Regions from separate parts of the Homo sapiens genome. Here region 2 is linked to region 1. Evidence: fine-mapped expression QTL. A gene starts in region 1. The other region holds a variant in brackets. All regions are shown on one strand. Distances are between the middles of the regions.

Region 1 (4,391 bases):
GAAAGTCATCAGTCCTTTCCTGAGCTGTGGTTCTAGATTCCTAGACAGTAAGGATGCTCTCTAGCCAGTGTGCCCAGTAGAGAAGAGAATAATGATCCTCACTGATGGGCAAGAGGTGGATAGAGGAATGTAAGTATGATTGGTCTCAAATGTCAGACTCATTCCGGCCCATCTTCAGGCCTAGTCCCTGGGGAAAGATTTCCTGGGGATTGCTGTCAGCCTGATGGGCTGCTAATCTGATCTCCAGGCTATGAAGGACTGGGCTCTGGATGAAGGCATCTAATGAAAATCACTTATGGGTGGGAACCAAAACCTTTTATGAGTTTATGTACTATGAGCTTTATTAATGTTGAGTACAAATCACTGTCTCCTTGGCTAAAGGTGTAACCTTAGGGAAGTGCTTTGGGTTTAGAGCTGATATAGTGTGGCCCTGCAGGTACAGGAATTCCTATCCTAGACCAGAAGGGTTTGGTGCCCTTCATCACCCTGAAACATTTGCCAAGGCCCAGAATAGGTCTGTTGACCTTTGAATCACACCATTCCCTTCCCTTTTCTTCCCTTCTGCTCATTACCAGCACTTTGGCCTGGTGCTCATCATTAGGTGTCACTACTGCTTCCTGGCTGGATGCCACGCTGCCACTGTCTACCCTGAGCCCAAGATTTGTGGCCTCACCAGATCCAAGAAAGCTAGAAAGTCACCTTAGCCATTACCTTGTCTTTGATTATATTCACCTTGGTAGGACAGGTTTTTGTGAGGAAGCCAGTATTGTGCATGGCATGTAAGAGGCTGAAATTGGGCCTTGCTGCAATAGCACCTAGAATGGCTAATTTCAGACAAATGACACCATGGTTCTATGGATGTAGGTAGGCAGTCCCAATTATTAAAAATGGTCACAGAGACATGGCACAGGTGAAGACATCTGGAGAGTCACTAAAAGCAAGACCTGGAGATTGTGGGTTTGAAATTCAGTTTCTGAGGCCAGGCTCGATGGCTCATGCCCACAGTCTCAGTGCTTTGGGAGGCCAAAGCAGGAGAGTCTCTTGAGGCCAGGAGTTCATGAGTCTATAGCTATGCAGGAGGATCGAACCGAAGAGTTCAAGGCTGTAGTGAGCTATGATCACACCACTGCATTCTGAGCCTGGGTGACAGAGCAAGACCTTGATTTAAAAAAAGAAATTCAGGGGCTGGGCGCCGTGGCTCACGCCTATAATCCTAGCACTTTGGGAGGCTGAGGTGGGAAGACACGTCAAGAGTTCAAGGCCAGCCTGGGCAACATACTGAGTCCTCGTTTCTACAAAATATACAAAAATTGGCCAGGTGCGGTGGCTCACGCCTGTAGTCCCAGCACTTTGGGAGGCCAAGGCGGGCGGATCACGAGGTCAGGAGTTTGAGACCAGCCTGGCCAACATGGTGAAACCCTGTTTCTACTAAAGATACAAAAAATTAGCTGGGCGTGGTGGCATGCGCCTCTAGTCCCATCTACTCGGTAGGCTGAGGCAGGAAAATCTCTTGAACCCGGGAGACGGAGGTTGCAGTGAGCCGAGATCGCACCATTGCACTCCAGCCAGGGCGAGACTCCGTCTCAATAAATAAATAAAAATTAGCCAGGCGTGGTGCCGCGTGCCTGTAGTTCCAGCTACTCGGAGGATCGCTTGAGCCGAGCGGTGATCGTGCCACTGCACTCCAGCCTGCGCGACAGCGCAAGACCCTGTCTCAAAACAAAGCAAAACAAAAAAGAAAAAAAAATTCTTGGTAACTGAGCACTGCTTGTCCAGCCCATTGAGTTTCTGTAGACAAATTGTAGGAACTGGCACAGCAAACTGGCCACAAAGACGTTAGGGGCGTGGACACCAGCTGCTTGAGCTGCCTGCTGTCCCAGACTCCCGTATGTCATCGCGCAGCGTGGGATTTTGCGGCTTCCTGACAGCCCAGGCTGTCGCTTGACTTGATCTTGGGTTTCACCAAGCCACGAAGGACTAGCGTCCCTCTCTCCTATCCCAAGGGCATTAAGCCTGTCTGGATGAAGTAGGAGAGGAAAGATTTACACGCAGTTCTCAACTTTACGTGACGTGACTAGGGAGGGAATTGACGGTCGCACCGTCTACCTAGCCCAAACGGGGTCACAGCAGGACAAGGAAGTAGCCGATCTCCCAGATGCGGTCTCTTCGCTCCGCTCCACCCGCACCAGCAGCGGCCCACCCACCTCTCCTGTAAGAGGAAGAACGTCCCGGAGACACTTCCGGCCCCGCCCCCCGAGGCGGAAGCGGAGTGCCAGGCTACTCCTCCCGCAGTGTGGGTGGTTCCGAGGCTGACTACCCTGCGGCGGCGCGGCTCGCAGTCCTTCTCAGCATGGACCGCACTTGTGAGGAGAGGCCCGCTGAGGATGGGAGCGACGAGGAGGACCCAGACTCCATGGAAGCCCCAACCCGGATCCGGGACACTCCGGAAGACATCGTGCTGGAAGCTCCGGCTAGTGGGCTGGCGTTCCATCCGGCCCGTGACCTACTGGCTGCAGGGGACGTGGACGGGGACGTGTTCGTGTGAGAGCGGGGCAGGGCCGGGGCGCCGGGTCTGGAAGCTTCCCGGGGGTGGACCTGGGAACAGGAGAGATGAGAGAAAGTTGCAGGGAGACAAATTTTGCAAGATTCTTTGGGTCCAATTTATTCAGTAACATTCGGCTCTTCTATCACACCAATCTGTTGAAAGAACTGGAATGTCGTGACAGAGCCCAGATACCGTAGTAGGCCAAAAAGCCCTTTAAGGCCTTGTTATTTCCCACCGATTATTATTTATTTACTTACCTATTTATTTTTGAGACGGAGTCTCGCTCTGTCGCCGAGGCTGGAGTGCAGTGGCGCGATCTGGGCTCACTGCAACCTCCCCCTTCCGGGTTCAAGCAGTTCTCTTCCTCAGCCTCCCGAGTAGCTGGGATTATAAGCGCCCGCCACCACGCCCGGCTAATTTTTTTTGTATTTGTAGTAGAGACGGGGTTTCACCATCTTGGCCAGGCTGGTCTTGAACTCCTGACCTCGTGATCCACCTGCCTTCCTCCCAGAGTGCTGGGATTACAGGCGTAAACCACCGTGCCCGGACTCCTACCGGATTATTATATTGTGCCCGAGACAGGCTCAGCAGGCCCCTTTAAGTGATTTTTCAAACCACAAATCTTGGCTCACGCCTGTAATACCCGCACTTTGGGAGGCCGAGGTGGGCGGGTCACCTGAGGTTGGAGCTCGAGACCAGCCTGTTCAACATGGTGAAACCCCGTCTCTACTAAAAATACAAAAATTAGCCCGGTGTGGTGGCGCGGGCCTGTAATCCCAGCTACACGGGAGGCTGAGGCAGAAGAATCACTTGGATTCGGGCGGTGGAGGTTGCAGTGAGCCAAGATCGTGCCACTGCACTCCAGCTTGGACAATAGAGTGAGACACTCCCTTGATTAAAACCCTTCAATGGTCTGCTTTTAGGATTTAGTACAAATTTCTCAATCCTGCCTTCAACGCCCTGACCATCTGTGCTCATTCATCCATACCTTTTAAAAATACGTCTTGGGCCGGGCGTGGTGGCTCATGCCTGTAATCCCAGCACTTTGGGAGACCAAGGTGGGGTATCACCTGAGGTCAGGAGTTGGAGACCAGCCTGGCCAACATGGTGAAATCCTGTCTCTACTAAAAATAGAAAAATTAGCTGGGTGTGGTGGCGGGCACCTGTAATCCCAGCTTCTCGGGAGGCTGAGGCAGGAGAATCGCTTGAACCTGGGAGGTGGAGGTGGCAGTGAGCCGAGATCGTGCCATTGCACTCCAGCCTGGGCAACAAGAGCAAAACTCCATCTCAAAAAAAAATCTCGAAACCTCAGCCCATTTGCATGTGCTATTCTGTCCGGAAAACTCCTTTCCCCTCACTTTTACCTACTATCTCTGAGTTTCCAGGATCTCTTCCCTCTTCCTCTCTCCCCAGACTAAAATTGGTTACCTGTTAGATGCTGCCATGGCACCAGGTGCCATGGTACCTTTCCCTTAATAATGAATGGTTGGTAACCATATGTCCATTTGTGTAATTATTTGAATGCTGTCTCCTTCACTAATGTTTTTCAAACGTCTTTGACCTTGCCTCACAGAGAAATACCTTTTACATTATATATGATGCTCTGTGATACAATTGCTGATTTTATTCTATTATTGTGTACATGTACACAAAATGCTGATCGTAGCTTACTAGTCCGTTATATGACTAGAATGTGAAAAAACACTGTTCTGGAGTGTAATCTGTCATCGGTTTTGTTCTCTATTTTATCTCCAACCTCTAGTCTAGGGTAGATGCTCAACACATGTTTGATTTTGAACAAAAGATACAGGTTAGAGGCAGTGGAAAAGTTGAAGATGTTATGCTT
Region 2 (4,391 bases), 32 kb after region 1:
TTTGGGACTGACTGTCACCTTGTCTCCACAGATCTCTTTTGACGTAAAAAGTTAGCTGGCTGTGGTGGCAGGTGCCTGTAATCCCAGCTACTAGGGAGGCTGAGGCAGGAGAATCACTTGAACCCAGGAGGCAGAGGTTGCAGTGAGCCGAGATTGCGCCATTGCACTCCAGCCTGGGTGACAAGAGCAAAACTCTGTCTCAAAAAAAAAATTTTTTTTGTGGAGATGGGTGTCTTTGTTGCCCAGGCTGGTTGTAAACTCATCGTTTCAAGTGATCCTCCCATCTTGGCCTCCTAAAGTGCTGGGGTTACGGGTGTGAGCCACTGCATCTGGCCTACAGTCTGCATTTTAAACAAGCATCGTGGGTAATTAAGATGCATGTAGTCCTTTCCCTGCACTTTCAGAACCAGTAGCTTAGAAGTTGTTAGGCAAATCCAAGTTCTGAAGCTTGACTATTTTGAGATGGTTCGGAATCGATCTGAATGGGCAGAAAGACCTGAAGTTAGTTCTTGGGTCACTTCTATCTCTACTTGCCTTGCTTTCTGCTGAACTTTTAGTTTTGCTAGGTGAGATTCCTTCATTTGACACTATTCAATATATATTGAATTCCAAGCACTGCTAGGCCTTGGGGATAGTGGAAAAAAGGGAAGGTCCTTGTTCTTACCCTAGTGGATGAGATCCAGGCCCAGTCCTCCCTAATGTCTGTATACTGGGCCTAATCTTTGGATGCAGTATCCCTCTTCCTTAACCCATTTATGTGAGGTTCCCTTTGCTCGTTATCTGGCCATGAATAAGGTGAAGAAGATGAAACGTTATCATGTTGGAAAGGTGTGGCGGCGAGAGAGCCCAACCATAGTCCAAGGCCGTTATAGGGAGTTCTGCCAGTGTGTAAGTGACCTGATGGGAGCAGCACAGTTTGATAGTTCTAGGGGCCACAACCTTGAAACTGGCTGGATAATGGATGTTTTTTCCCATCTTTTTCTTTGCTGTAGGATTTTGACATTGCTGGTCAGTTTGACCCTATGATCCCCGATGCAGAGTGTTTGAAGATCATGTGTGAAATCCTAAGTGGATTGCAGTTGGGAGACTTTCTCATTAAGGTGAGGCCAGGGCTGAGAACTGTGGGAGAAGTCTGGATTTGGCCTAATACTGTTTATGCAAGTCCCAAACTTGGGTGACTCCAACCCTTAAGCCTGCAACTGTAGGACTTTCCTAGTAAAGCTGTTGTATTTCCTATATGTCTGTACTCTTCCTGTGAAATTTCCATCCTTTTTGTGTGTCAGGAAAGTAGGTACTGCCATTGTTTTGAGTGGAAGGGCATTGACAAGCACTTGGGTCACTGACATTGAGTTCTCAGGTAAATGACCGGCGGATTGTGGATGGGATGTTTGCTGTCTGTGGTGTTCCTGAAAGCAAGTTCCGTGCCATCTGCTCCTCCATAGATAAACTAGACAAGGTAACAAAGAAGACATACTTCAGTAGACCCTATCTAGCTTCTGCCCTGCCCTCAAATCCATACCACTAGTGAAAAATAAGGAGATTGTGGCTGGAAGTGGGCTATTTTGGGGTGGAAGGTAAGGAGGCATACTCTGAAGGAAGATCTGAGTCATGCTATACAGTGGGGATTGTGACTGGATTTCTTAAGCTGTCTCTGACTTTGCTGAGTATACAGTTAGCTACTTGTGATGTATATACTGAATGGAAGTTGAGTTGTCCTTTTTCAGTTTGAGAAAGAAAGATCTTGGGGCTGGGCTAATGTTTGGGTGTTTATGCAGATGGCTTGGAAAGATGTGAGACATGAGATGGTGGTGAAGAAAGGCCTGGCTCCTGAGGTGGCTGATCGAATTGGGGACTATGTCCAGTGTCATGGTAAGAACCAGGGTTTTCAGAGCTGTGATAGAACCAGGCTGAAGGTGACATGTGCTCAAATTCTACCTCTGAAACAACTCTTTTCTGTAGATATGCTAAGCTCCAGGGCCTGTCCTGAATTTAATTTCTCTTTTACTTATTGTAACGACTTTGTGTCTTCAGATGGCAAAGCTAGAGGCAAAGGAGGAGGGTCTTGTCATGTGAGACTGGGAT[C/CT]TTTTTTTTTTTTTTTTTTTTTTAAAGAAAATGAGGAAGACTAGCTAGAGCACATTAGGGATAATTTTGAATGAAACACATGTGAGTGAACAGCAGAGACTTTATTTCTCTCCAGGTGGGGTATCCCTAGTAGAGCAAATGTTTCAGGATCCCAGACTATCCCAGAACAAGCAGGCCCTGGAGGGCCTGGGAGACCTAAAGCTGCTATTTGAATACCTGACTTTATTTGGAATTGCTGATAAGGTAAGCTGAATTGCAAATGGACCTCCTGCTGAGCTCTAGGGCTCTCAGGGTCCCGAGTCTAGTTTGGGACTGACTGTAATCTTGTCCCCACAGATCTCCTTTGACCTCAGCCTGGCTCGGGGCCTAGACTACTATACAGGAGTGATCTATGAAGCAGTGCTGCTGCAGACCCCAACTCAGGCTGGGGAGGAGCCCCTGAATGTGGGCAGTGTGGCTGCTGGTGGGCGCTATGATGGGCTGGTGGGCATGTTTGACCCCAAGGGCCACAAGGTGCCATGTGTGGGACTCAGCATTGGGGTTGAGCGAATCTTCTACATTGTGGAGCAGAGGATGAAGGTAGGTCCTAGATAGGTGTGAGGTGGGGCTGGAGACCTAAAAACCCTCCTGTTTCTGGAGGTGTAGTTGGAGTGGTTTTCTGATGATTCTTTTTGTCTTGATTTTTGGAATTGCTGGTGGAAAGGAGGTTTTTATTAGTTTTACTTTCTTCTCTCTTATTAGACCAAAGGTGAGAAGGTGCGGACTACAGAGACTCAAGTGTTTGTGGCCACACCACAGAAGAACTTTCTCCAAGAACGGTTGAAGCTTATTGCAGAGCTTTGGGATTCTGGAATCAAGGTATGGTGGAGCTGATATCTGAGCCATCTGGGTATGTGTGGAATTTAGGACCCAGGGCTATATCTATCTTATGTCTGGGGTGGAACTCAAAACCTTTTTAGTCTGCTAGCTACTACTGGCTACTAGATTGGCTTTTTAGGGTAGGCGGACTAGCCACTTATCTCTGGCTTTCTTGGATATCCATGTTCCTGAGGTTTGTTGCTGTGTTCACTTCTAAGTCCCTTACTCTGTCTTGATCCTTTTCAGGCAGAGATGCTATACAAGAACAACCCCAAACTATTAACCCAGCTGCACTATTGTGAGAGCACAGGCATTCCACTGGTGGTCATTATTGGTGAGCAAGAACTGAAAGAAGGGGTCATCAAGATCCGTTCAGTGGCCAGCAGAGAGGAGGTGAGTGGCGGCAGCAGAAATAGAAGGGACGAAGTATTTCTGCCTTTCCCAGATTCTGTAAGAAATATGCATCTTCTGGCTGAGAAATTATCTTCATGGTTAATAGTGGTAGAGATGAACAAACACTCACTCAAGATGACCATTGCTGCCTGTGAGTATTGACTGGGTGGCCAGAAGAAAGACAAATGAAATCCGAATGGGTATTTTGAGACTAATCAACATAATAGACATAGATCAGGTGTTTGAATCCCTTTCATCTTGAGGGTATACATTCTTCAGGTCAACCCACACTACTCCTTTCTGGTTGTATAAGTAATGGGAGAAGATGCAGAGTAAAACAAATCTGGAAAAACAGTGGCTAAGGAGTTAGTATCACTTTCTAGTTTATCACATGAGGATTCTCTTATGTTTCAGGTGGCCATTAAACGGGAAAATTTTGTGGCTGAAATTCAGAAGCGACTGTCTGAGTCTTGATCCTTGCCTGATTCCCATCTGCTGCTCTTTGTAGAAAAGGTTTCCTCTAGAACTGAATTCCTCTGGAATTGAGTGATGGACTTCACAACAACTAGCCAGGAAGGGTGACAAGTACCTTCTGCCTCCTCCATTCTTCCTGGGTGCAGAACTGTAGAAGACCCTGAGGACTCCTGGGCTAGTGTGAGCAGCTATTCTGCATGGGTGCAGATGGCTGGATGTGAAAGAGACATGCTCTAGCTGCAGAGGCAAATTTGAAGTGCCACGGAACGTTGTCAAGAGGTAGTGAGATTGTTGCTGTGAGCAAGGCTCTGGGAGAGTCACCTCAGGCTCAGGATTCTGAACCATTGAGATCAGAAACCAGATACTTAGCCTTCTACTGTAGCTACGGAACCAGATTCTGGTGAATTTGTCCACAATCAGCCATTGGCCTGTCTGGGGAGTTTTTGGAAGACAGCAAAGAGGGGCAATGGCTGCTTTCAGCTTTGAGGACAGATGCTATCCTAAGGGCATGGCAGTACCCATGTTGATTTGACATCTCTCTAGCCCATCCATTGCTTACAGTAGAAGAGTGGGGCTGTATGCTT

Evidence for each region. PIP is the estimated chance that this variant, and not a neighbour inherited with it, causes the effect. A credible set is the group of variants that fine-mapping cannot tell apart.
Region 2: its variant is the best candidate, but not a certain one, in a credible set for the expression of WDR55 in whole blood (INTERVAL, PIP 0.53).

Annotation. Positions count from the first base shown.
Region 1 is chr5:140,662,563-140,666,953 of GRCh38, forward strand. It overlaps WDR55 (WD repeat domain 55), which reads left to right and starts at 2,342. Exons shown (of 7, transcript NM_017706.5): 1 at 2,342-2,541. The coding sequence starts at 2,351. LOC124901088 (a long non-coding RNA gene) reads right to left here and starts at 2,875. Exons shown (of 2, transcript XR_007058968.1): 1 at 2,803-2,875; 2 at 1-2,595. RefSeq lists enhancers at 1,753-2,419, 1,837-1,996, 2,347-2,476.
Region 2 is chr5:140,694,746-140,699,136 of GRCh38, forward strand. HARS2 (histidyl-tRNA synthetase 2, mitochondrial) reads left to right here. Exons shown (of 13, transcript NM_012208.4): 5 at 763-888; 6 at 993-1,100; 7 at 1,358-1,456; 8 at 1,776-1,869; 9 at 2,198-2,325; 10 at 2,419-2,661; 11 at 2,824-2,940; 12 at 3,187-3,333; 13 at 3,748-4,391. The coding sequence ends at 3,807. Among named protein-coding and RNA genes, the nearest start is that of ZMAT2, 3.5 kb to the right of the region's middle. The variant C/CT (reference allele first, on the strand shown) is at 2,083.